4 linked regions of the Homo sapiens genome follow. The protein of the gene in region 2 purifies or fractionates together with the protein of the main gene of each other region. This does not show direct contact. Each region holds a gene or a part of one and is shown on either strand. Other genes may lie near its edges. The genes, in order: ATG7, KIAA0930, FRYL and SIRT2.

Region 1 (2,806 bases), on a different chromosome or scaffold from region 2:
GCCCACATGACCCAGTGACGCCAGATTTCCACCAAGGACTGAGTGAGCTGCTCAGACATGGCTTTCTGCCTCCCAGCCTGTCCTCCACTGTGGGCATAGCATCTGTGCCTGCCTGCCTGCTTGAGGGAGAGGAGTTTCTGCTGCTGCCTTGAGCTGGGGGGAAGAGCCCAGGGGCAGATCCTGGCAGCTGCCTGGATGGGGCTCCTCCCTGCCCTTATGAGCAGGCCAGGCCCAGAAAGGCCGAGCCTGGGCTGCCTTCCTGCCCCAGCCGAGGGAGGGGTCAGACGGCTCTACCATGGGTAACTCAGGCAAGAGCTGGTTTTCCTCTTTATTCTGGGTGTGTGCAGCTGTGAGGCCCCAACCCAGGAGAGGCCATGGCCTAGGTACCTGTGACCACCCTGCCCCCGTGTAGAGGGCATCGTCTTTCCTGCTATTTTATTCTTTCAGCTTTTGTCTTAGGCCCAGAATCAAAGTGAAAATTGAGTCGAGCTGACCCTTACAACAGTAGGATTTAGTAGGGTAGATTTCAAATGAGGCTTCGCTTCTCCCAAAGTAGCCAGTCCAAGTTCCAGTGGCTGTCGTTCAGCTCATGGGAGCTTCATGGGGACACAGCCGGCACAGGTGCAGGGCCCGAGTCCGCCCACCCAGCCTGGCGCTGAAACTGCACACGTACACTATGTGGTTTAAGAGCACTTTATTATTGTTCTTAAGGCTACTTTTAAGTACAAAAAAAGATGGCCTGCCAAACCTTTTTTTTTCTTCTTCCAGGAAAAACAGGCCACAGAGAATGGTATATTACAGATTTACACACATGAAGAGAAGGTCAGAGCGCACTGCAGGCAGCGCGGCTCTGGGAAGAACTTCACGGAGCCCCTTCTTAGAGCAGGGAGGGGGCTTTCTCAGTGAAATGTTTGGTTTTCTGCTGCCTCCTCTGCCCCAGGCCCCCCTCCAGGGTACTGCCTATCCCAGATAGGTCAGTGCACCAGGGACCCGGCCGCCAGCACCGCCGACCCCTCCCAGAGTGACGCCCTTGTTCACTGACAAAGAGACCTGTCCCAGGAGTGTCCTCCACCGAGCCGGTCAGCTGTGGGTGGTTTTCCTGTTACGACGCTCAGTAGCCTGTAGCAATAACAAACTCGTGGCTATGAATGCAGATGCAGTGTTCTCATAGAATAACTGTTCCTGCACTTTTACAGACAAATCTACGACAAAAAAAAAGATCAACTTTTTTTTTCCGAACAACAAAAAAAATGAATGATTACAATAGGAAAGGGAAAAATTAAATAGCTACATATCATTAACAAATTAATGTTCTTCAAAAAATACCTACAAATTTCTCTGTACATTCTTTACGCACAGCGTAACGATGGTCTCAAAATCACCCATATAGAAAAGTGTTCTCAACGATTTTTCCTACAGAAAATATAGGGGCCTGAATGCCAAAGCTTGGAAGCCCAGTACAGTGGGAGTGAAATGTGTGCGGGGCAAGGAGAAGGGCTTTTCTTTCCTCCACTTTTCAAAGGCCTGCAGCCACTCTGTGACTACAAGAGCCAGTCCTCCGACCTTTTCACCCAGTGCCAATTTCCAAAATTCAACAGCTAAAAACTGTAAAACCGGGGGTCATACGGTGTGCAGAGTCCACAAAGCCTTGCAGGTGAGGTGACCACGCCCACGTCACCTGGTCAGGTGCCATCGTCGTGAGCCTCTGGTGGGCCAGGTGGGACACAGCACACCCCAGGGGGAGGGGATAGAAACGCTCATTGACCAAAAAGGAGCAGCTGTGACCTCCACAGCTGTGTCTGTCATGCTTGCTTCATCTAATTTCTAGTTAGTAGCTATTAATATAGCAAATAATAAATGCAGTAATAACAGTATAAAGTCAGAGGAATGTATACTGCCTTGGCCCCAGCGTACGAGGAAGCGTATAAAACACCATATCACAGATTGTCTGTCAGTAATCTGCTGTTCAGCCAAGAGAGTTCAAAGGGAGCAGTTTCTGCATGTAGGGAAGTTGGAAGACACAAACCCCACCTCCCCTGGGAGCTTGTAACAAAGCAGACAGGGATGCAAAAATAAATGATGTCAGCCTGCAGCCAAACTCCAGCATCCCACACCGCAGCTGACCCACTGCTCATCGCGAGGGCCTGCCAGGAGCTGGCCTCCCGCACTACTTGTGAGTAAAGTGAATATCAAATACCAATCTTAGAGTACAACTGTACCAGCAGTAAGTATATCTAGGACTGTAACTGACAAAAATAAACTAATTCTGAAAAGAAGATAGTAAGTATTAAGGTTTTTGTTTACTGTCTATATAATTAATAGAAACCAGCTATTTTTTCTCCATTAAAACATGCATCACGTTTAAAGCACTATGGAATCCTCCAACCTCAGCTCTAGTCTAACAAACTGCAGTGTTCAGAGAAGATAAAATGCCCGTGATTGGTAGAGTCTGCAGTCCAGTTGCAAGCACCTGAAATCTAGAGAGAGAAAGACCTATAACCTGTATGAGACTTCCCCTTCCAAAGCTGTATTGTCTACATTAAAAAAAACAAAAACAGTAACAACAACAAACACACAAATGGTCAGAAATGTCATCCTTAAACCCTTTGTTTTTCAGCAGTTTGCCCTCAGAGTTCTGGCATAACACATAAAGTTGTCAGGCAACTTTAGTCCTCCTCCAATAGTGCAAATCAGACACGACAGTTCTCTTCAAGTATACACACGCACACACATGGACCGAACCAAACACGCCGTGGAAGCTGAGCCACACACACCCCGGTCTCAAGAAGCAAAGGAAAAAGCACAA
Region 2 (7,515 bases):
CAGGAACTCTGAAAAATGAAGCAAGACTGACCTATTAAAGCAATTGGATTGTGGTTGTTTTTTCTTTCTGCTAAACTTTGCTTGATTGTTGTTCTAAGTGTTTGCAAAATAAACCTCAGGGATAGAAGCGCTTAGGTGGAGAGCTGACACAATGCCCACATCTCAGGCTTGCCCACGTATTGGTATCACTGCTGTAATAATTACTACAACGTTATTGCCTTAACACATTTCCAGTTCTGTAGGTTAGAAGTTCAACTGAGGTCTTGCTGAGCTAAAGTCAAGGTGCAGGCAGGGCTGTGTCATATCTGGGGGCAACTGTAGGAGAATCTGTTTCCTTGCCTCTTCCAGCTTCCGGAAGCTGCCTGTATGCCTTGTCTTGTGGCCCCTTCCTCCCTCTTCAGTGCCAGCAACATTGCATTTACCTGACCATTCTTGTGTTGTCACATCTCTTTTTGACCACAGCCAGGAAATGTTCCCCGATTTTAAGAATTTATGTGATGAGATTGGGCCCACTTGGATAACCCAGGATAGTCTCCCTATCTCAGTGTCTGTACTCTTAGGCCCCATGTGGCAGCTCATGCCTGTAATCCCGGCACTTTGGGAGCCCGAGGTGGGCAGATCACTTGAGGTCGGGAGTTCGAGACCAGCCTGGCCAACATGGTGAAACCCTGTCTCTACCAAAAAATACAAAAAATAGCCGGGTGTGGTGGCACACACCCTTAGTCCCAGCTACTCAGGAGGTTGAGGTGGGAGGATGGATTGAGCTGGGGAGGTGGAGGTTGCAGTGAGCTAAGATCGTGCCACTGCACTCCAGCCTGGGCAACTGAGTGAGACCCTGTCTCGAAAACAAACAAACAAAAAATCACGTCAGCAAAGTCCATTTTGCCAGGTAAGGCAACATATTCACAGGAATTAGCACAGGAATTAGGGTGTGGGCATTTTGGGGCCATTATTCTGCCTATATACTTTCAATTCTATTTTATATTCTGAATATTTGTATACAGAAAAGTGCATAAATAATTACAAAATGCCAGCTTTATATATATATTACATACATATATTACATATATAACATATATATTATATATATTACATATATATATGTTATATATACATATATATATATTTTTTTTTTGAGACCAGGTCTCACTCTGTTGCCTAGGCTGGAGTGCAGCAGTGTGATCGCGGCTCACTGCAGCCTTGACTTCCCCGCCTCAAGCAATCCTCCCACCTCAGCCTCCTGAGTAGCTGTGACCACAGACGTGTGTCATCACACCTGGCTAATTTTTTTTTTTTTGTAAAGATGAGGTCTTGCTATGTTGGCCAGGCTGGTCTCAAACTCCTGGGCCTAAGCCAGCCTCCTGCCTGCCTTGGCCTCCCAAAGTGCTGTGGTTACAGGTTTGAACCACAGCACACAGCCTTTTGATTTTCTAACTTTTTTTTTTTTTTGAGATGGAGTCTCGCTCTGTTGCCCAGGTTGGAGTGTAGTGGCACAATCTCGGCTCACTGCAACCTCTGCCTCCCAGGTTCGAGCGATTCTCCTGCGTCAGCCTCCAGAATAGCTGGGACTACAGGTGTGTGCCATTACGCCCAGCTAATTTTTGTATTTTTAGTAGAGATGGGGTTTCGCCAGGTTGGCCAGGCTGGTCTCGAACTCCCGACCTCAGGTGATCTGCCCGCCTTGGCCCCCCAAAGTGCTGGGATTACAGGCGTGAGCCACCATGCCCAGCTGTGCAGCCTTTTAATTTTCATAAACTGACCACACCCGTGTAACCAGCCCCCAGATCAAGAAACAGAACATGCTCTGTAGCCCCAGAAGTCCTGCTCCTGCCCTCTTCCCATGCACAGTGTGATTTAGCATTTGTTGACATTAGAAAATTCTGTGTATATGTGAGGTCAGGAGTTCGAGACCAGCCTGACCAACATGGAGAAACCCCATCTCCATGAAATTAGCCGGGCGTGGTGGCACATGCCTGTAATCCCAGCTACTTGGGAGGCTGAGGCAAGAGAATTGCTTGAACCTGGGAGGTGGAGGTTGCGGTGAGGCGAGATCGCGACATTGTACTCCAGCCTGGGCAACAAGAGCAAAACTCCGCCTCAAAAAAAAAAAAAAAAAAAAAGAAAGAAAGAAAATTCTGTGTATAGGTAATACCTGGAGTATTATTGAAATACAAAGGAGAGAGCCCAAGCGATGTTTGTTTACTCATTCATTCAACAGATATTTTTCTGGCACCAGTCCTGGGCTGGGTGCCACGGGAAGTGGGATGAATTGGTTCAATGCTGGTCATATGACACAGAATACACGGAGGCAACTGTGTGCAGGAGGGTGGGGTGGGGAAAGGGGGTTTGTGAAGCAAATAAGAACACAATGCATTGGCCAAGCGTAACCAGGCAATGTGGGTCCCAAAGGCAACTACAGTTGCGGAGCAGAAAGGATTTCAGGCCAAGGGAACACTGTGGGCAAACGCATGGCAGTGGGAACAGGCAGGGGGTGCTGTGGGGTTTGGGGAGGCAAAGAGGGATGTGACTATTGGACTTGACAGCCTTGGAGCACTCGCTCATGCTGTCTGATCCACCATCCCCAGTTCTCACGTCCACCAGCCCAAACCCCAGCTCTCCAGACGCAGAACCAGAGGCCTCAGCCCTCATGCCAGTGTCCTCACTTTACAGACAGGGATGCAGGCCCACTGGAGAAGAGAAATACACGTGAGGCTGGTCGCGCACTTCCTTCATTCCCTCACTGCTCACCTTTCTACAGAGCCCTCCTGGGCCTGGCACTGGGGACACAGAGGGGTCAGATGTGGCTCTGCTCTGAAGAGTTCAGGGGCCAGTGGCACAAAACTGGGGCAGAGGCCTGAAGCAGGATCCAGATCCCATCTCCCTTCTGGGGCTCTGCCCAACCCCACGGCTCCTTCCTGCTGTGCCTCCCAGGAAGACCCCTGCGTCCCCATCAGACCTCTCCATCATTCTTCGTTTATGCAGCCTACATTTTTTTTTCTTTTCTTTTCTTTTTTTTTGGGGGGGGACAGGGTCTTGCTCTGTCTCCCAGCTTGGAGTGCAGTGGCGGGATCTCGGCTCACTGCAGCCTCCGCCTCCCAGGTTCAAGCAATTCTCCTGCCTCAGCCTCCAGAGTAGCTGGGATTACAAATGTGTGCTACCATGCCCGGCTAATTTTTGTATTTTTAGTAGAGATGGGGTTTCACCATTTTAGCCAGGCTGTTCTGGAACTCCTAACCTCAGGCAATCCACCTACCTCGGCCTCCCAAAGTGTTGGGATTACAGGCATGAGCCACTGTGCCCAGCCTGCAGCCCATATCTATTTATTGGGCATCTAATGTGTGCCAGGCAATGTTCTGGGTACTGAGACAACAGCTGTGTAGTAGACAGGCCCCTCCCTCGGTAGAGAAGAGAACAAGTGAACCCATAGGTATCCAATGTGTCGGGAGGAGGTAAGTGTCACCCTGTGAAGGAGAAACAGACTAAGGGAAGAGAGAGGGAGGGAAGGCGGTCAGGGGAGTTTCTTTGAGGATGTGACACTCGGGACACAAAGGAAGCAAGTTACACAGGAATGGGGAGAAGAGGACTCCAGACAGGGGAAAGGGGGACCTTGATGGGTCTGGGGTCCACACACAGGCTGTGAATGCAGGGAGTGATGTAGATTTAGCTTTGGAGAGACCTGGAAATCAATGCTGGTCTCTCCATCTCCCCCTGTTCTTGGAAATGGACCACCAGGCGTGAGGTTTGGGGAGGCCACTGGCTGCTTCTCCGGTGTCTTCCTGTATCAGCCACAACTAGCACACGGAGGGATGCTGGCCAGACCTGGCTTCATCAGGATGACACGCCCAGCTAACCTCATACCTCCCCCTTCATCAACACTCCCCCATGTTGGGGAGGCAAGGCAGGGAAAGGTCCCCCATGGTGCAGCTGAGGAAATGGAGGCGCAACACTCTGCACTGTGCCAGGTGCAGAGGAGGGGGGCCGGAAGGGCTTTGCCACGGTGTCCCCCAGGAGACCACCTTCTGGGAGCAGGTGACCTCTTGAGGGGTTCTGCGGAGGAAGTTCCCAGAAGTCAGCCGAGGGGACTTGGTGGAGGTGGCAACGCACAGGGCGGGTGACAAAGTACACATCCCGTGGGGTAGCAGCGGGGGAGGGGAGAGGTGCCCTGAAGGGGCGGCGGGAGGGGCTCAGAGGCGTGATCCCGTTGGTGGGGCGTTTAGGACCTTGGGTGGAGGCGGGACCCCGCGAGCGGTTTGAGGGAGGCTGTCCTGGGCATCCGAAGATTGGCGGAGACTGGCCGTTTGGAAGTGGGCGGGGCAAGGGAGGTCAGGGGGCGGGGCCAGGGAGCCGGGGTGGGTCCGGGCCGTTCAGAGGCGGGGCGGGAGGGGACAGGGGCGGGGCCGGGGCGGGGAAGGGGCGGGGCCGGACCGGGGCCGGGCCGGGCCGGGGCGGGGCGAGCGGAGCCGGGGGCGCGCGGGCGGCGGCGGCGCGGAGGTGCGCTCGCCGGTGCTGTGTTTGGCGGGTGGTGGCGGCGGCGGCGGCGACGGCGACGCGCACAGAGGCGGACTGTGGCTTCCTTGGTGCTCGCGGCGGGCTGCGGGCCGGGCCGCCCGCCCTCCCCGCCGCCGCCGCCCCCGAGCCTGCGGGCGGCGCCGAGGCCGAGGAGCGCTCGCTGCAGCACATGCTGCGTGCCATAGCGGAGGAGCGCGGCCGTCTTAGCCTGCGCCGCGAGGTCTGCGGCCTCGGTGAGTGGGACCCGGGGGCGAGGCCGGGCCGGGAGAGGTGAGCGTCTCCGGGGCCGCCTCTGCGCGTCCGTGTTTCTGTGCGCCCCGCGCATCTCTGTCTCTGCGCGGGTGTCGTGGTCTCTGGGTCTGCCTGGGTACCCTGTCTTCCTCCATGGCCCCCCCCCCACCGTCCCTGCATCTGGGTCTGTCTCTGCTTTCCGTCCGACGAGCGCCCCGCACCCCTGTGCCCGGGTCTCATTCGGCGTCTCCCCCTGTCAGTCCGTCCGGGTGTCTGTCTCATCTTCCTCCTTCTTCTTCGTGTCTCTGCGGGTCTTCTTCCTTCTCCAGGAAGCCCGCCCCGGGCCCTCAGCACCGCGGTAGGGAGTGTGGGCGTGGGATCTGGGTACACCCTTAGCCCAGCGCGGCAGGGTCGGGCCCTCGTTGGGCTCTGGGTGGACCTCGCTGCGAGCGTGCCCTGGCCACTGTCTCCTGCTACCCGAAGCCTTTGTCTTTCCGCACCCACCGGCCCCTCTCATCCCTTAGCTGTATCCAGGGACCTGTTGGGCAATGGCCCCCCGAACCCGCCCGCTTGGCTGAGGGGCAGGGCCTGCTGCCTCTCGGTGTGATTCTGGGCTTTAAGTCATGGATCTGCTGGGGGGCGTGGGATGGGGGTGCCTCGTATTGTTTGGAAGGGCCTGGGACTGCAGGTGTGGGTGGGGTCTCCCAGCCAGTGAGGTAATCCATTACTGATGGATCATGCCCAGACTGAAGCCCAGGAGAAGCCCCCTCTTTTGTCGTCTCAGGTTCGTCATTTTCTCCATGGAAAAGACCCCTCCCTCCTCCGTGCAGGGAATGACTTCATACCACATTGTCAGCCACCCCCCACCCCACCCCCAGGCTAGGCTGGGGATTTCTGAGGGGGTGACAGCATTGCTGAGTACGGAATGTCAGCCTTCCAGATTCACCCCTTCATTCACCGTTGGGGAAACTGAGTCCCAGAGAACAAGTGCATCCCCCTAAGGTCACACAGCTGCAGGGACATGGCAGTCCCAGGCATTCAGGGCCCCTCAGCAGGCCACACCCTGGAGGCTGGAGTGGAGAGAGGAAGTAAATTTGAATCCCTTTTGTAGGAGGCAGGCTTAGCATGGGAGGCTTCCCAGTGAGCAGGCCCCAGCCTAGCCTGCCCAGGCGAGCCTTTCCTCATGCAGGGGTGGGGTGGGGGGTGCTTATGAAGTGAAATGGACAAGAACTTCAATGGTTGACAAGGTTTCAATGGTTTCTTTCTGAAAAGGTGTCAAGATTTACTTTTGAGCAGAAGTTGGAGCGTGCTTATTCATTCATTCTGCAAACATTCATTGAGCACCTACTGTGTGCCACCGTGGCAGGCCCACCTGTCAGCTGGCACCGAATATCTGAGCTGGGATGCATCTGAAGGACCATCTGCTGCAGGTCACTTGGCCCTGTTTGCTCAGCAGCTTCAAGCAGTCCCTCCCCACTCCCCTGTCCACACACACCTATTGTCCTCTGACCACCTTTACCTGTGAGCACCTTCTCTCCTCTTCTAGGCAGCCCCTCCCGCAAGGAGGCTGCAGGGCCATTCCCAGAAGAACAGTGAACAGTGAAAATGGCACCTAGCATTTACTGAGCACTTACTATGTGCCGGGTGCTTTACTCATGCTGCAAATTTAATCCTGACACAATGCTGACTTTGCCAGGGAGCAGTATTATCTCCATATCAGCGATGAAGAGCCTGAGGGTGAGAGAGAGAGAGAGAGAGAGAGAGAGCCTGCCCAGGGACAACCAATGAGGAAGCAGCATAGCAGCATAGCCGGGACTGACCCTCTGCCAGCCTGACCTCAGAGCCTGCCCTCCACTCCCTGAATATCCCCAGCCAGGTCTTTATGTGCCTACGATACTCACGCTGTTTCCTTGTCTCTTCTCCAGGCCTCCCGCACGTGCCAGGTCTCCCCTCTTCCCCTGCTGCTGAACTCAGTCCCTGCAGGGCTCTGAAGCAGAGAAAACCTGCTGTTTTCTCTGCCCGGAAAGCCGCCCCTACTCATGTGCCCCACAAGCATCTCTAAGTTTTCCTTTAAGTCTCAGCTCCAGTGTTGCCTCTCCGGGAACTCTTTCCAGCTCCCAGGCACACAGTCCTGTTCTGCCTGTGTTCTCTTTGTGCCAGGCACATGTTTGTTGGGACAATCAGGATGATTGTGGCCTTGTCATGGTCTGTGTGCTGTCTCCCCAGTTAGCAGGTGAGGCCTTCAAAGGCATTACCCAGTCTGATTCATCTTGGTGCCCAGCATGGGGCACATACGGAGCAGGTGCCCAGTAAACATTTAGTGAACAAGTGAGAAAATTATTATCTGGACTGGCAGATGAAGGGCGTGGAGGGCCACGGAGATGGGAATCTTAGCTTCTTAGAAGGCCTCATTTTTGGCCGGGCGTGGTGGCTCATGCCTGTAATCCCAACCCTTTGGGAGGCTGAGGCGGGCGGATCATGAGGTCAGGAGTTTGAGACCAGCCTGGCTAACATGAGGAAACCCCCGTCTCTACTAAAAATACAAAAAAAAAAATTAGCCAGGCGTGGTGGCGGGCGCCTATAGTCGCAGCTACTCAGGAGGCTGAGACAAGAGAATGGTGTGAACCCGGGAGGCGGAGGTTGCAGTGAGCCGAGATCACGCCACTGCACTCCAGCCTGGGCTACAGAGTGAGACTCTGTCTCAAAAAAAAAAAAAAGGGCTCATTTTTCAGATGAGAGATTTGATGTTCAGCGAGGGGTGAGCTTACTAGGAAC
Region 3 (7,037 bases), on a different chromosome or scaffold from region 2:
TTTTAGTGCCTTAGTGGCGAATATTATTCAGAATGTTCCAGGTATTATTTTCAGTTTCTTAAAGCATTATTGAGTATTAAGGAACCGTCATATTTTTTCTTTCCTTGAGGTTTAATAATCTAAGTTGATAAAGTAACGTATGAACATACTGGAAAAATATGTCAGCATAACCTGGATGGCTGGAGTTTGTTTTCCCTTTGAATTATTGTCACTGATTAGAAATAAAAAAGCAACCCAGCATAGAATTTCAGTAATAATCAGGATACTGACACAAAAACCTGGAGAAATCAATAGAATAAGCTCTTTAGGATAGCCTTGTTTTAGATGCAATAAGCAGAGTGCAGTGTCTCATGATAATTGAGAATAAAATTAAGAAGATACTTTTGAATAATGGGAAAAGAGTATAGGCCATAAATACAAAATGTAACAAGGATACCGTGTTACTGATTTACCAGATATGTTCCAATTATTGAGTAGGGTCTATATCGACAGATACTGGTTTAGATACTAGGAAGATTAATATACACAATTACATTTTTAAAAGTTAAATTATTTACAACTGTAAGAAGTAATGTGACTAGCCTTTGGCATACACTATAAGTGTTTCTTTTTCTCTTTGAAAAATTAAAGTCACATTGTTATTTTGAATAGTATATACAGACAGTGGATACCTAAAGAACATGGGTTGTATTTTATAACAGGGTCATTAAGCACTTAATTACATATGTCAATTTCAACTGTAGGAGCCTTGTTTTCATCTTTGAAAGGAAAATGACACTGTCAAAGGAAAAGAGCATATTTTTTTCGAAATTTTCTGATCTGAAGCTCACTAATATAAAGATGTGGTTTAGTCTATTACTAAACACTTTTTTACAACTTCCACATTGGTTTATTGTGATACTGCTGAGTTTCTTCAAGAAGGATAGATGTAGAGAAATTATATAGTAGAATTTCAAAATGGGGGAAAAAAATCCTTGGAGATCATTTAAACCAGTGGTTTTCAAACTTTGGTGTTTCTCAAAGCCCTGAGGTTCTCTGATGCCATCCGCAGAAAGCAGCAGAATGTGTTTGGACACTAGGCCTGAACTGCCCTTTTATCTGTTTTATATACTGAGATTACATGTAAGCTTCCTTTAGCAGGAAAAGGCAGCTTTCCTGCTGAAAAAAAAAAATAGAAAGTTTGAAAACACGTATCTCGTCCAAAGCCCTTACTTACCAGTGAACCAAGATACAGAGGTGTGTCTGTGTTAAAATCTTGGCCAATCTTACCATATAGCCAGTGATAGCCCAGGGAGAAATGGACTCCTGGCCCCACCTCTGTGCCAGCCTTCATGTGCCATTGAGCCTGCCATGGAATTTCTGCTTGCAGAGATGCTCTATGTCATGTAATGCTGGGACAGGGTGACACAGACTGCAACTTTGTTTCTGTGATTTGCATATATATAAATGATCCCTGCTACCGCGGAGGTTTTTGATAGTTTAAAATGAAAACTTCTGCTTTCTTTTTTACACTATTACACATTCAATAACATGTTGGTATAAAAGTTAAAGCAAAAAGAAATGGAAATAAATGTTTTCTATCTTTTTTTATTCACAGTGCACCAGAGAAGAAGTATTTTTCCTCAACAGAGCCTTCGTCACAGTCTATTTATGCTGTTCAGTCACTGGGCAGGTCCTTTTAGCATCATGTTTACGCCCTTGGACAGATACAGTGATAGAAATATGCAAATTAATAGACATCAATACTGTGCGTTAAAGGTATTTACTTAGAAACCTGATTTCTTTTTTCTTAAGAGCAGAGTTAAGTATTTTTAAGTCTCTCAGTCACTAGTATTAAAAAGAGGATCTGAGAGTATTAAAATGTTTTTCTGCCATATTCAAAACTTATACCATAAGTTATATTTAAATACATAAAATACAATGAAAAACAGTTCCAGAATCTACTCAAATTTGATCACCATTATCTTAAAGAACTTAGGATTACTTGAAAGAAATGCCTTTTTTCCCTTACTTAATTACTTTTTCTTGGTCTTTTTATCTTCCCTTCCAGTACTGTTCAAACTCCATGTCTAATTTGGTATCATATTTACTTACTCATAATAAATTTCTCAGTTTTAAAAAATAATTTGTAAAGAAAAAAGATTAAAGTATTGTGACTAGATAAGTATTTTGCCTCTTCTCATTAAGCAACCAACATTTAACCTCTTAAATTTGTTAAATGTAATTCTAATATTATTATTTGAAGGCTATGTCTGCTGTACTGTGTTGTGGCCCTGTTGCAGATAATGTAGGACTTTCATCAGATGGCTATTTGTACAAATGGTTGGATAACATTTTGGATTCTCTGGACAAAAAGGTAATTATGACAATTTCCTTAAAGGTTCATAATAAGTTGTCATTGTATTATTTGCAGTTAATGTATGTTGCACTAAAAACAAGTCTTTTAAAAAAATAAGATAGGTTAGGATCATATGCAAAAAGCATATTATATAAAGTTAAATAGGATCCCATAATGTAAAAACGTTCCAATTCTTATGTATCATTAATTTGAATAATTTTCATTTCCCTTTTTATATTATAGGATTAATACAGTGGTATGTGTCTCTCAACAGGGTTCTAAGTCAATAAATAAAATACCAGCATAGAACATATTGAGCTGCATGGGAAAAATATGTTATTTGCTATGTTTCATTTCGTTTTTTTAACCACTTTCCATTTAATCATTCCTCCTTGCCCTCCACACTCTGCCTTCCTTACTCTCATATTGTACATATACAGACTTCACAATTTAAAATAGGACTTACATTTTTTCCCCTCAGAACAGTTTTTCTATTGGGTTATCAAAAACAAGAATAAAGCTTGATAAAAATAATTGGAGAGGTTAATGACTCATTTTTCTGAAAGCACCTAATCACTATTCATATTCATTAACTGCCTTCAGGGCTCTGTTGGAAGACAAAATCATACTAGAGAGGCTCGCGTAAAAAGCGAGAGGCCAAATTCAGTTCATCTGTGTGGTTTTTTCTGCTGGCTGAATAAAATGAGAGGGAGGTGAACAAAAGGAGATGGAATTTTTCTATTAATTACAATGAATATATGCACTATATTACTTTAGTAAGAACTATAGGGAAATAGACAAAAAATATATAACGTTCTCTCTCGGGCAATTTCACAACCTTTACCTAGGTTCACCAGCTGGGCTGTGAAGCAGTTACGTTGTTACTGGAGCTGAACCCTGATCAGAGCAACCTGATGTACTGGGCTGTGGACCGCTGCTACACGGGCTCCGGGAGGGTGGCGGCCGGCTGCTTTAAAGCCATTGCTAATGTTTTCCAGAACAGGTACTTTAGATACAGGTTTTTTGTTTCATTTTGTTCTGTTTTCTTAAAGAAAAGTTTTTCTTTTGAATTCAAAAATAGGAAGACACCAGTTTAGTTGTCCTTCAGTATCTGTGGGGGATTGGTTCCAGGACCCCTCTCAGATCCCAAAATCCATGGATGCTCTAGCCTTCTATATAAAATGCTGTAGTATTTGTATTTACTCTATGCAAATCCTCCCGTATACTCCTTTTTTTTTTTTTTTAGACATGGTCTCGCTGTCACCCAGGCTAGAGTGCAGTGGCATGATCATAGTTCACTGTAACCTCAAACTCCTAGGCTCAAGTGATCCTCCCACCTCAACCTCCCGAGTAGCCAGGACTGTAGGCTCCCACTACCATGCCTGGCTAATTTTTAAATTCTTTGTAGCGACGAGGTCTCACTACGTATGTTGCCCAGGATGGTCTTGAACTCCTGGCCTCTCACTTTGGCTTCCCAAAGTGCTGGGATTTCAGGCATGACCTGCCGCGCTTGGCCTTTCCCTCATATTTTTGATCCACAGAGGGTTGACTGTATTTTCTTTTCTTAAGCTCAAATGCAGCCGTGTCTAACCCTTTGAATGTGAGGACCTTTTTGCTTATCTGTGGTGGTGGATATTACAAAAATTATGCATGGATTTTTTTTTTTTTTTTAGTTCATCAGCTGTTTTTAGTGTATTTTATGTGTGACACAAGACAATTCTTCTGATATGGCCCAGGGAAGCCAAAAGGTTGAACACGTGTGCTCTAATGGAATTTAACCAAAATAAGGACAATTATCACCATGCATCTGTTGTTGTACCTATTGCCTTGAAAAAACCAAGTCTCCTCATAGGCTTAGAAGATAGATGCCTATAAGCCTTGCCCTTTGCATATCATATTTATTAAATGGTGCAAAAGCCTCTAAACATTGTTATTTACTTAATATGTAAAATTTATTCCTAGGGATTATCAATGTGACACAGTGATGCTTCTAAATCTGATACTGTTTAAAGCAGCTGATTCTTCTAGAAGTATCTATGAAGTTGCTATGCAACTTTTACAGGTTTGTAAACATGTGAATTTAAATATTTTTTTACTCAGGATTTAATGAAGCCCAATAATTTAGTCTTGCTATTAAAGCATACTGATAATAGTATTTAGCTTTATTTATAGTAAAGAAGTTATGGTATCAAGGCCTAATTATTATTAGAAGTATAAGACAAAGATAATATAGATATTTAAATTTATAAGTAATGCAGACTATTCCTAAGTGTATTGTAGAAGGATTATTTATGATAATGTGTGTGTATGTGTATGAAGGTACTTATAAATATGTGTCCATGTAAGTATTTCTGTTCAGCAGATGAGAACAATGTGTGTCCAAATTTTTTTGGAGAGCCATGTGAAAAATAATTAGCTCTTTTTATCATATTCTCATGTAAATTTTCTTTATTAGGTTGAGGAGAAATAACTTAGAAAGTTAACTTACCAAACACGGATATATTGTTAGTATGCAATACTTAACTAATTCATAATAGGGCAAGATTCTTCCATCTTAACCAAGGGCTAAGAATAGGATTCAAGTAGGTGCTTTTTCCAAAGGCTCTGAAGTGGTTCTGATGCCAGTAGATCCATCTTAGGAATTATACCCTAATGCCTTTGTTAATTAAGAGGAAAGTTCAGCAGTACAGCTCTTTAAATAGTGTAATGTCGAAAGGTCCTCCTTGAAGGGTTTTTTTTTTTCACTTATGCATATATTGTACTACCATATTTTTGTGCGAGAAAAGTGGTAAATCTTTTTCAAGTAATCGTATATTAAGTTGCTGGAGTTATTTTCAGACTGTGTTACTAACCTGGATCATTGGCATTAAATACGAGGAATGTAAATTCTTTTAGTGAGAAAGAGTTTTTGTTTGTTTTGTTTCATTTTGTTTTTGAGATAGGGTCTCACTCTGTCACCCAGGCTAGAGTACAGTGGCACAGTCATGGCTCACTGCTGCCTCTACCTCCTGAGCTCAAGTGACCCTCCACCCTCAGCCTCCTGAGTAGCTGGGACCACAGGCACACACCACCACATCTGGCTAATTTTTTAATTTTTTTGTAGAGATGAGGTCCTGCTATGTTGGCCAGGCTAGTCTGGAACTCCTGGCCTCAAGTGATCCTCCCACCTCTGCCTTCCAAAGTATTGAGATTACAGGCATAAGCCACTCCACTCAGCTGGGGAGAAGAGTTTTTTTAAAAATTATAAAATTATAGTTAAACTTTAGAGAACCCATAAAATCTTAACCTAAGTTGATGGAATCACATTCCTATAGATTCTGGAACCGAAGATGTTTCGCTATGCTCACAAATTGGAGGTTCAGAGAACAGATGGAGTACTCAGCCAGCTGTCTCCTCTACCACATCTCTATTCTGTTTCATATTATCAGTTGTCCGAGGAACTAGCAAGGGCGTATCCTGAGCTAACTCTCGCCATATTCTCAGGTATGATCAATGAACTGGTTAGTAGTTTCTATTTGTCAATCATTTCTTCAGAAACAATTTTTAGAAAATTATAAATTTATTAAATTACAGGTTAAATCAAAACCAGACATGTCTTTACATAGGAAATATTTTTTTCTTCAATAAGAACTCTTAATTCTGATCAGTCACAATATTTAGGTTTTTCTATCAACGGCGTCCTTATAGGGTTTTATACCTGACCTTCCCTTCGCTCCCTACTCCATCAAAAAGAAAAAAATACAAGAGGGACGACTTTTCACATGTGACTTAAAAGTATTTCTTAGTAGACATAGGACTTCTTGAATACATTGTATTTTGTGTATTGGCATATGTTTAATAATAAAAATAGGCAGGGATAAAGTTATAGGCAGTTTTCCGTGAGCGAAACCCCTAACCATAGGAGCAGGTGGTACAGTGCCTCGAGCAAAACTCTTTCTAGTCTCCCACATGTTGCTTGTCGCCTACATCAAGATCTTGTTCCAGTGTAAGTACTGGCCATGCTCCAACACTGGGATCTGGGAGATTGCAGAGTTCTGCTGTGGGTCCTTTATTTCATTTGGGCTCAAGAGATAGTGGACTTAGCTGGCTTGGGATCTTTGCACAGCACCTATTTTAGCAATAGAAATAGTTTATTTCCCATCCCTAATTGACCTGAGTGGGAGAAAAAAGCAATAACAACAACTTAAATTCTCATAACATTTAGTTCTTGAAAGCAGTTGACCTGTTTGGTTTGCCCTGGTAGTTGGTAGCAATGCCTCTTCCTTTTTCCCAACCCCCGCATCCGTGACAGCCCTTCCAAGATGAATATGAGTGATCATCAACACAAAATAGCGGCCGCCGTGAACACAGATTTTGTGGCTGCTGAGCTGCTGCTAGAGGCTTTTGCACAGAAAGTAGAGGAGTCCAGCTGGGTCTCAAGAGATCATGTAACTGTTTAGAATGTCATGTCATCGCCTAGGATGTGTGCTGGTACAGGTGTCCACCATGCCCACACCCCCACCACCTTGTCATTCTTCCTTCAGTTCTCTCTTCAGACACTCTTGTCCTTAGCATCAGCTAATTTTAACTCCTTTGCTTAAGATAGTTCATTCTAAACCAAAACAGCCTCTCAACCTGACAAATTCCATAGCTAACCTACATTTTCACTTTCACTGTTTCTAAGGCAAGACAAACACAATATTCATTCAGAATTTTACTG
Region 4 (7,037 bases), on a different chromosome or scaffold from region 2:
AAGCCCCGCCAAGGCCCTGCAGACAAATATTATGTAGCCATTAAGTACATGGGTGCTGGGCCCAGACTGCCTCGGTTCAAGTCCTGGTTCCTCGTGTCTTCATCTTACGACCTTGAGCCTCCGATTTGCCTCCTGTGAAGTGAAGCTAATGGTACTGTCTGAAGAGGGCTGCTGCGAGGCTTAGCTGACTAATGATGCCGTTGAGAGCCCGGGACCCTGCAGCCGGGCTGCCTGGGTGTGAATCTCAGCTCTGCAGCTTACCCACCGTGTGACTTTGGCAACACAATCCCCTTCCCTGTCCTTCAGTTTCCTCATCTGTGATCTGGGGATAGCAGTGGTCTCTCCCCGACGCGGCTGCTGTGACGGTTCCCTGGGGGTAAAACAGTCACAGTGCCTAGAACAGTTCCTGGCATGCGGCAGTGGCCTGTGGCTGTTCCCTGCAGTCGTCAGCAGTGCTGTCGCTCTTCCCTGCAGCCAACCATCTGTCACTACTTCATGCGCCTGCTGAAGGACAAGGGGCTACTCCTGCGCTGCTACACGCAGGTAGGCGGATGCGAGCATCCTGGGAGGAGGATGGGCGGGTGGAACGGGCATGGTGTCCTCAGCAGAGGAGCAGAGCTGCGTGCCCAAGAGCTCAGGCGGGGACTCCAGCAATGCGGGGCCAGGGCTTGGCCTACTGCCTCCTTGCTGCATGACCTGCCGTGAGTCACGTCTTCTCTGCCTCAGTTTCCCCTTCCGTCAAACAGGGGCCAGAAAAGGTTTGCCCTCTCAGGTCTGCCCTCTCAGGTCTGCAGTGCGGTGGCAGTGACCTCCTCTCAGGGCCATCCCATGTGTGATGTGGAAGGAGCCTATGGCTGAAGGGACTCTGTGTGCACTATAGGCACCCCAGATTTCACATTGGTTATGAGCGAGTTTCCAAAGTGACTTCATCTAACAAAATCCATACACTATGACACGTGTCCAACAAGTAGATGTTGTGCCTTAAGGAAGGGGCACCTTTTTATAGTTTTTTGTGCTTTGCCCAATTATAAACATGTCTCGTACACGTCAGGTGCTTAGCCAAGGGCCTCTCCCTGGGGCATTCAAGCAAGGATGGCTCACATTGTTGGCTTCTGGTTTGGAGAGTCTCACACCCCTAACAGTAAAAAAATCTTGATGGGCTGGGCACAGTGGCTCACACCTGTAATCCCAGCACTTTGGGAGGCCAAAGCGAGAGATAGCTCGAGCCCAGGCGTTTGGGACCCGCCTGGGCAACATAGGGAGACCCTGTCTCTACAAGAAATACAAAAATTAGCTGGGCAGGGTGGCGTGTGCCTGTAGCCCCAGCTACTCAGGAGGCTGAGGTAGGGGGATTGCTTGAGTTCAGGAAGTCAAGACTGCAGTGAGCTATGATGGTGCCACTGTACTGTAGCCTGGGAGACCTGGTTTCAAAGAAACAAAAAACAAATCAAAACAACAACAAAATGTTGCTGCCTCTACCTGTTTTATGAATATGTATAGAAATGACATGATGCACTACAACAGTATTAATTCAAGCTCTAGATCACACCTCAGAACCCCGAATTATAAAACAGGTGGCCGGGCGCGGTGGCTCACGCCTGTAATCCCAGCACTTTGGGACACCGAGGTGGGCAGATCACGAGGTCAGGAGTTCAAGACCAGCCTGTCCAACATCATGAAATCTGGTCTCTACTAAAAATACAAAAATTAGCCAGGTGTGGTGGTGCCTGTAACCCCAGCTACTCGGGAGGCTGAGGCAGGAGAATCGCTTGAACCTGGGAGGCAGAGGTTGTAGTGAGTCAAGATTGTGCCACTGCACTCCAGCCTGGGTGACAGAGCAAGACTCCATCTCAATTTAAAAAAACAAACAAACAAACAAAAAAGAGTGGTAACATTGAAAATAAATAAGTGTTCTAGTGTTTTCTCCCTGTACCTGCAGTTTGGCACCTGCAGCCCCAAAAGCTACCGCCAGGGGGAGGAACAACTGGCTTTAAGTTCAGATTTCTCAGGTGGGCGAGGTGTTCCCACCTGGGGCTGGTAGGAGGCAGAGGGCAGCGGAGGCCTCCTTCTTCCAAGAGGAGGAGTCCTGTGATCCCCACACTTTGGGAGGCCAAAGTGGGAGATCGCTTGAGCCCATGAGTTCAAGACCAGCCTGGGCAACATAGGGAGACTCCGGGCTCAGAATAAACCTTCTGCCCAGAGAGTCACCATTATTCCAGGACGTGGCTCAGATATGATAACAGCTTGCTTGAAGCCAAGTGCTTTTTGTGGTTGATGTCATGACACTCACCCCAAGACCCCGCTGGCCCTTGTTTGTCAGCTTCTGTCAAAGTAAATGTTCACTGAGTTGATTCCCTACAGCAGGGAGGGAGATGATGGACAAGATGGAGACACCATATACTGAGCATATAAGATGGTCATGGGTCCCTGGAACACAGTTAAGCTGGAAGGGGAGTCAGAAACGGTGTATGTGTTCGGGAAAGGGGGTGCTGTTGTAAACCCCATCTCTACGAAAAATACAAAAATTAGCCAGGCGTGGTGGCACATGCCTGTAGTCCTAGTTACTCAGGAGGCTGAGGCATGAGAGTTGCTTGAACCTGGGAGGTGGAGGTTGCCCTGAGCTGAGATTGCCCCACTGCACTCCAGCCTGGGTGACAGAGAGAGACTCCGTCTCAAAAAAAGAAAAAAAATGACACATCACATACAAACTATTATATAAAGGCCAGGCGCGGTGGCTCACGTCTGTAATCCCAGCACTTTGGGAGGCCAAAGTCAACGTCAGGAGTTTAAGACCAGCCTGGCCAACATGGTGAAACCCTGTCTCTACTAAAAATACAAAAATTAGCTGGGTGTGGTGGTGCGTGCCTGTAATCCCAGCTACTCAGGATGCTGAGGCAGGAGAATCACTTAAACCTGGGAGGCAGAGGTTGCAGTGAGCCAAGATTCCGCCATTGCACTCCAACCTGGGCAACAGAGCAAGACTCCATCTCAAAAAAAAAAAAAAAAAAATTAGCCAGGCATGGTAGTGCACACCTGTAGTCCCAGCTACTTGGGAGCTTGAGAGAGGAGGATTGCTTGAGCCCAGGATTTCAAGGCTACAGTGAGCTATGATCAAGCTACTGTACTCCAGCCTGGACCAGTAGAGCAAAATCCTGTCAAAAGAAAAAAAAAAAAAAACCATGTTGTCAAAGAATAACAGAACGCAGAGGTATTTCGGTGGTTCTTTTCCACGCTGTTCAGTTATTTGCTTACTGTTCAGTTATTTGCAAATTGCTCACTCACATGTGAGGGAGTCAGTGGGTAGACTGAGTCAAGTACCAAAGGCAAAACCAAGATTTAGAATAGTGGGCAAGGGAGGAAAGTTACAGGGCGTGTGGGAACAGTGACAGTGACTCTTGTCTGTAGGCTTTGGAGATAAGGTGGTTGCTGGTAGGGAGCCCAGAAGGCAGTTAGAGCATTCTTTCTGCCCTTGAAGGGAAACAAACCCTTCCCGTTGTTTCTGGAGTCCCTGGGAAACGCTGTCAGTTTGGCCCTGGGCCACACATGCGAGCCATCTCTGCGTAACCTCTGCCAGTGTCCTCTGTCAGCACCTGTTTTAGCGGCATTCCTCACAGGCAAACAACAGCTGCTCCAAAGGGGGTGGTTGTTTTAAGAAAAATGAGCGCGCACAAATGTCTGTGCAGAAAAGAACATTCCCACCTGTTTAATATGGAAAGTCTCACTGTCTTAAAAGAAAACAGTGGCCGGGCGCAGTGGCTCACACCTGTAATCCCAGCACTTTGGGAGGCTGAGGTGGGCAGATCACGAGGTCAGGAGATCGAGACCATCCTGACCAACATGGTGAAACCCCGTCTCTACTAAAAATACAAAAATTAGCTAGGCATGGTGGCGCGTGCCTGTGTTCCCAGCTACCTGGAAGGCTGAGGCAGGAGAATCACTTGAACCTGGGAGGCGGAGCTTGCAGTGAGCCAAGATTGCGCCACTGCACTCCAGCCTGGCAACAGAGCAAGACTCCGTCTCAAAAAAAAAAAAAAAAATAGCCACGCATGGTGGCGGGTGCCTGTAATCTCAGCTACTTGAGAGGCGGAGGCAGGGAGAATTGCTTGAACTCAGGAGGCAGTGGTTGCAGTGAGCCGAGATAGCGCCATTGTACTCCAGCCTGGGCAACAAGAGTGAAACTCCATCTGAAAAAAAAAAAAAAGAAAAGAAAAGAAAAGAAAACAGTGGCTGGGCATGGTGTCTCACGCCTGTAATCCCAACGCTTTGGGAGGCTGAAGTGGGAGGATCACTTGAGCCCAGGAGTTCAAGACCAGCCCGGGCAAATAGGGAGACCACCCCACCCCCCATCTCTACAAAAATAATTAAAAAGATAAAAAATTAGCCGGGCATGGTGGCATTTGCCTGTAGTCCCAGCTACTCAGTGGGCTGAGGTGGGAGGATGGCTTGAGCCCAGGAGGTGAAGGCTACAGTGAGCTGTGATCAGACCACTACACTCCAGCCTGAGTGACAGAGCAAGACCCTGCCTCCAAAAAAAGAAAAGAACACAGGTGAATATGCCATCTATGAAACAGGCCATAGTAAGAAAGGACCCTGGCTACTAAAGGGGAAGATAGTGATTAAAGCCAAGGAAGGGCCAGGCATGATGACTCACACTGTAATCCCAGCACATTGGGAGGCTGAGGCAGAAGGCTCGCTGACCAGCCTGGGCAACATAGTGAGACCCCATCTCTACAGAAAATTTTAAAAATCAGCCAGATGTGGAGGCTGAGGTGGGAGGATTGCTTGAGCCCAGGAGTTGGAGGCTGCAGTGAGCTATGATTGTACCACTGCACTATAGCCTGGGCGACAGAGTGAGACCTTGTCTCAAATACATAAAAAAACATGGCTAGGCACAGTGGCTCATGTCTATAATCCCAGCACTTTGGGAGGCCGAGGCAAGCAAATCACGAGGTCCAGAGTTCGAGACCAGCCTAGCCAACATGGTGAAACCCCATCTCTACTAAAAATACAAAAATTAGCCAGTCATGGTGGTGCGTGCCTGTAATCCCAGCTACTTGGGAGACTGAGGCAGGAAAATCTCTTGAACCTGGGAGTCAGAGGTTGCAGTGAGCCGAGATTGTGCCACTGCACTCCAGCCTGGGTGACAGAGCAAGACTCCATCTCAAAAAACAAACAAACAAACAAACAAACAAACCACACCTAGTAAGCCCTCCTGATTCATTTATGTTAATGCTTGCCTAGAGCTGCCACATGCAGCTGTGCAGGGTGCGCACTGCACAAGGATGCCACATCTGAGGGGGCTCCATTAATAACAGAGACATTGTAAATGTATGTTAATTTCAGCAATTAATGACAGGTGGAAATAAAGCATCTGGCTCTAATAAAACAACATTTTTTTTCTGAAAAATGAAAGCAAATGGCCTGAATTTGCAGAATAAAAGCCACACAGGCTGTGGAGTGGCTGTGGGCCTGGCCTCATAGATATTTAGGTTTGGGCCCCTTTTTTTTTTTTTTTTTTTTTAATTTTTTGTAGAGACAAGCGTCTTGATATGTTGCTCAGGCAGGTCTTGAACTCCTGGCCTCAAGTGATCCTCCCACCTCAGCCTCCCAAAGTGCTGGGATTATAGGCGTGAGCCGCCATGCCCAGCCTGGCCCCTGCCTTTAAGCAGCCTTGACTGTCACCCTTTAAGTGGCACCATTGGGATGAACAGAAGAGTCTTCAGATAAACCCTGCCACTTGCTTCTCCTCCCTCCCTTCTCCACCTGTCCCCACCACCTCACTGCTCCTCGTGGCCCTCAACTCCCTACTGTGCCTTCTGGCCTACAAGGGGTGGCTCACTCCTCACCCCTCTTCCCTCCATCTCTCCCTCTAGAACATAGATACCCTGGAGCGAATAGCCGGGCTGGAACAGGAGGACTTGGTGGAGGCGCACGGCACCTTCTACACATCACACTGCGTCAGCGCCAGCTGCCGGCACGAATACCCGCTAAGCTGGATGAAAGGTGAGGCTGGAGGGCATCCTGAGGGCAGGCCTCCTCTCAGCACCAGGAGCAGTGTCTCCATGCAGTGGGCACCCATTCTGTCCTGCTCAATTCTTTGGGGTTTTTTTGTTTTGTTTGTTTGTTTTTGAGACAGAGTCTCACTCTGTCGCCCACGCGGGGAGTTCAGTGGGTGATCATGGCTCACTGCAGCCCAACTGCCTGATTTCCTGTCTTTGGCTGTTTTTAATATATGATAGTAGGCCAGGAGCAGTGGCTCACACCTGTAATCCTAGCACTTTGGGAGGCCAAGGCGGGCAGATCACCTGAGGTCAGGAGTTCAAGACCAGCCTGGCTAACATGGTGAAACCCCGTTTCTACTAGAAATACAAAAAAAAAAAAATTAGCCTGGTGTGGTGGCATGCGCCTGTAATCCCAGCTACTCAGGAGGCTGAGGCAGGAGAATCGCTTGAACCTGGGAGGCGGAGGCTGCAGTGAGCTGAGTTCGCACCATTGCACTCCAGCTTGGGCAACAAGAGCAAAACTCTGTCTCAAAAAAAAAAAAAAAAAAAAAACAAGAAGTCACTTATTCCACTCATGGAAAGCCATTTCTGACATTCTTTATGCTGATTTAACAAAGCCTCTGGTGTCCCTGTGAGATAAGGACAGCTGCAGCATTTGCAGAAGGGCCTCTGGAGTGTGGCTGTTCTGATAAAATGCCAGCTGAGTGCCCCTGGGCTGAGGATTCCTGAATAGCCCAACTGCAAGCAGCTGGGGGCAGTGTACAATTCACATTACCCCCATTATGTGTCATTGACAGCAGCGTCACAGGCAGCACCCACGGTGTCATGCTGTCCATGCAGAAATATTTTAAAGAAAATTACCGACTACTGACATTGAAACAATGCTTTATAAATGTGTGCTGAATGAATGAATGGACAGTTGAGCAAATGACTTAGAATTCAGTGGGTTGCAAGTGACAGAAATGCTTTCTTTCTTTCTTTTTTTTTTTTTTGAGATGGAGTCTTGCTCTGTCACCCAGGCTGGAGTGCAGTGGT

Evidence for each region.
Region 1: the proteins of KIAA0930 (region 2) and ATG7 purify together in Homo sapiens (affinity purification with mass spectrometry; 4 studies listed by BioGRID and IntAct, with this or other methods). This does not show direct contact.
Region 3: the proteins of KIAA0930 (region 2) and FRYL purify together in Homo sapiens (affinity purification with mass spectrometry; 3 studies listed by BioGRID and IntAct, with this or other methods). This does not show direct contact.
Region 4: the proteins of KIAA0930 (region 2) and SIRT2 purify together in Homo sapiens (affinity purification with mass spectrometry; 2 studies listed by BioGRID and IntAct, with this or other methods). This does not show direct contact.

The regions. Positions count from the first base shown.
Region 1 is NC_000003.12:11,555,390-11,558,195, forward strand, and holds the end of ATG7 (ubiquitin-like modifier-activating enzyme ATG7), read left to right. Parts: 3' UTR 1-2,276; downstream 2,277-2,806. UniProt on the Homo sapiens protein: E1-like activating enzyme involved in the 2 ubiquitin-like systems required for cytoplasm to vacuole transport (Cvt) and autophagy.
Region 2 is NC_000022.11:45,237,867-45,245,381, reverse strand, and holds the start of KIAA0930 (uncharacterized protein KIAA0930), read left to right. Parts: upstream 1-4,487; 5' UTR 4,488-4,678; coding exon 4,679-4,742; intron 4,743-7,515.
Region 3 is NC_000004.12:48,560,252-48,567,288, reverse strand, and holds part of FRYL (protein furry homolog-like), read left to right. Parts: coding exon 1-41; intron 42-1,597; coding exon 1,598-1,758; intron 1,759-2,245; coding exon 2,246-2,356; intron 2,357-3,186; coding exon 3,187-3,341; intron 3,342-4,300; coding exon 4,301-4,400; intron 4,401-5,652; coding exon 5,653-5,821; intron 5,822-7,037. UniProt on the Homo sapiens protein: Plays a key role in maintaining the integrity of polarized cell extensions during morphogenesis, regulates the actin cytoskeleton and plays a key role in patterning sensory neuron dendritic fields by promoting avoidance between homologous dendrites as well as by limiting dendritic branching.
Region 4 is NC_000019.10:38,882,593-38,889,629, reverse strand, and holds part of SIRT2 (NAD-dependent protein deacetylase sirtuin-2), read left to right. Parts: intron 1-474; coding exon 475-543; intron 544-5,873; coding exon 5,874-6,003; intron 6,004-7,037. UniProt on the Homo sapiens protein: NAD-dependent protein deacetylase, which deacetylates internal lysines on histone and alpha-tubulin as well as many other proteins such as key transcription factors.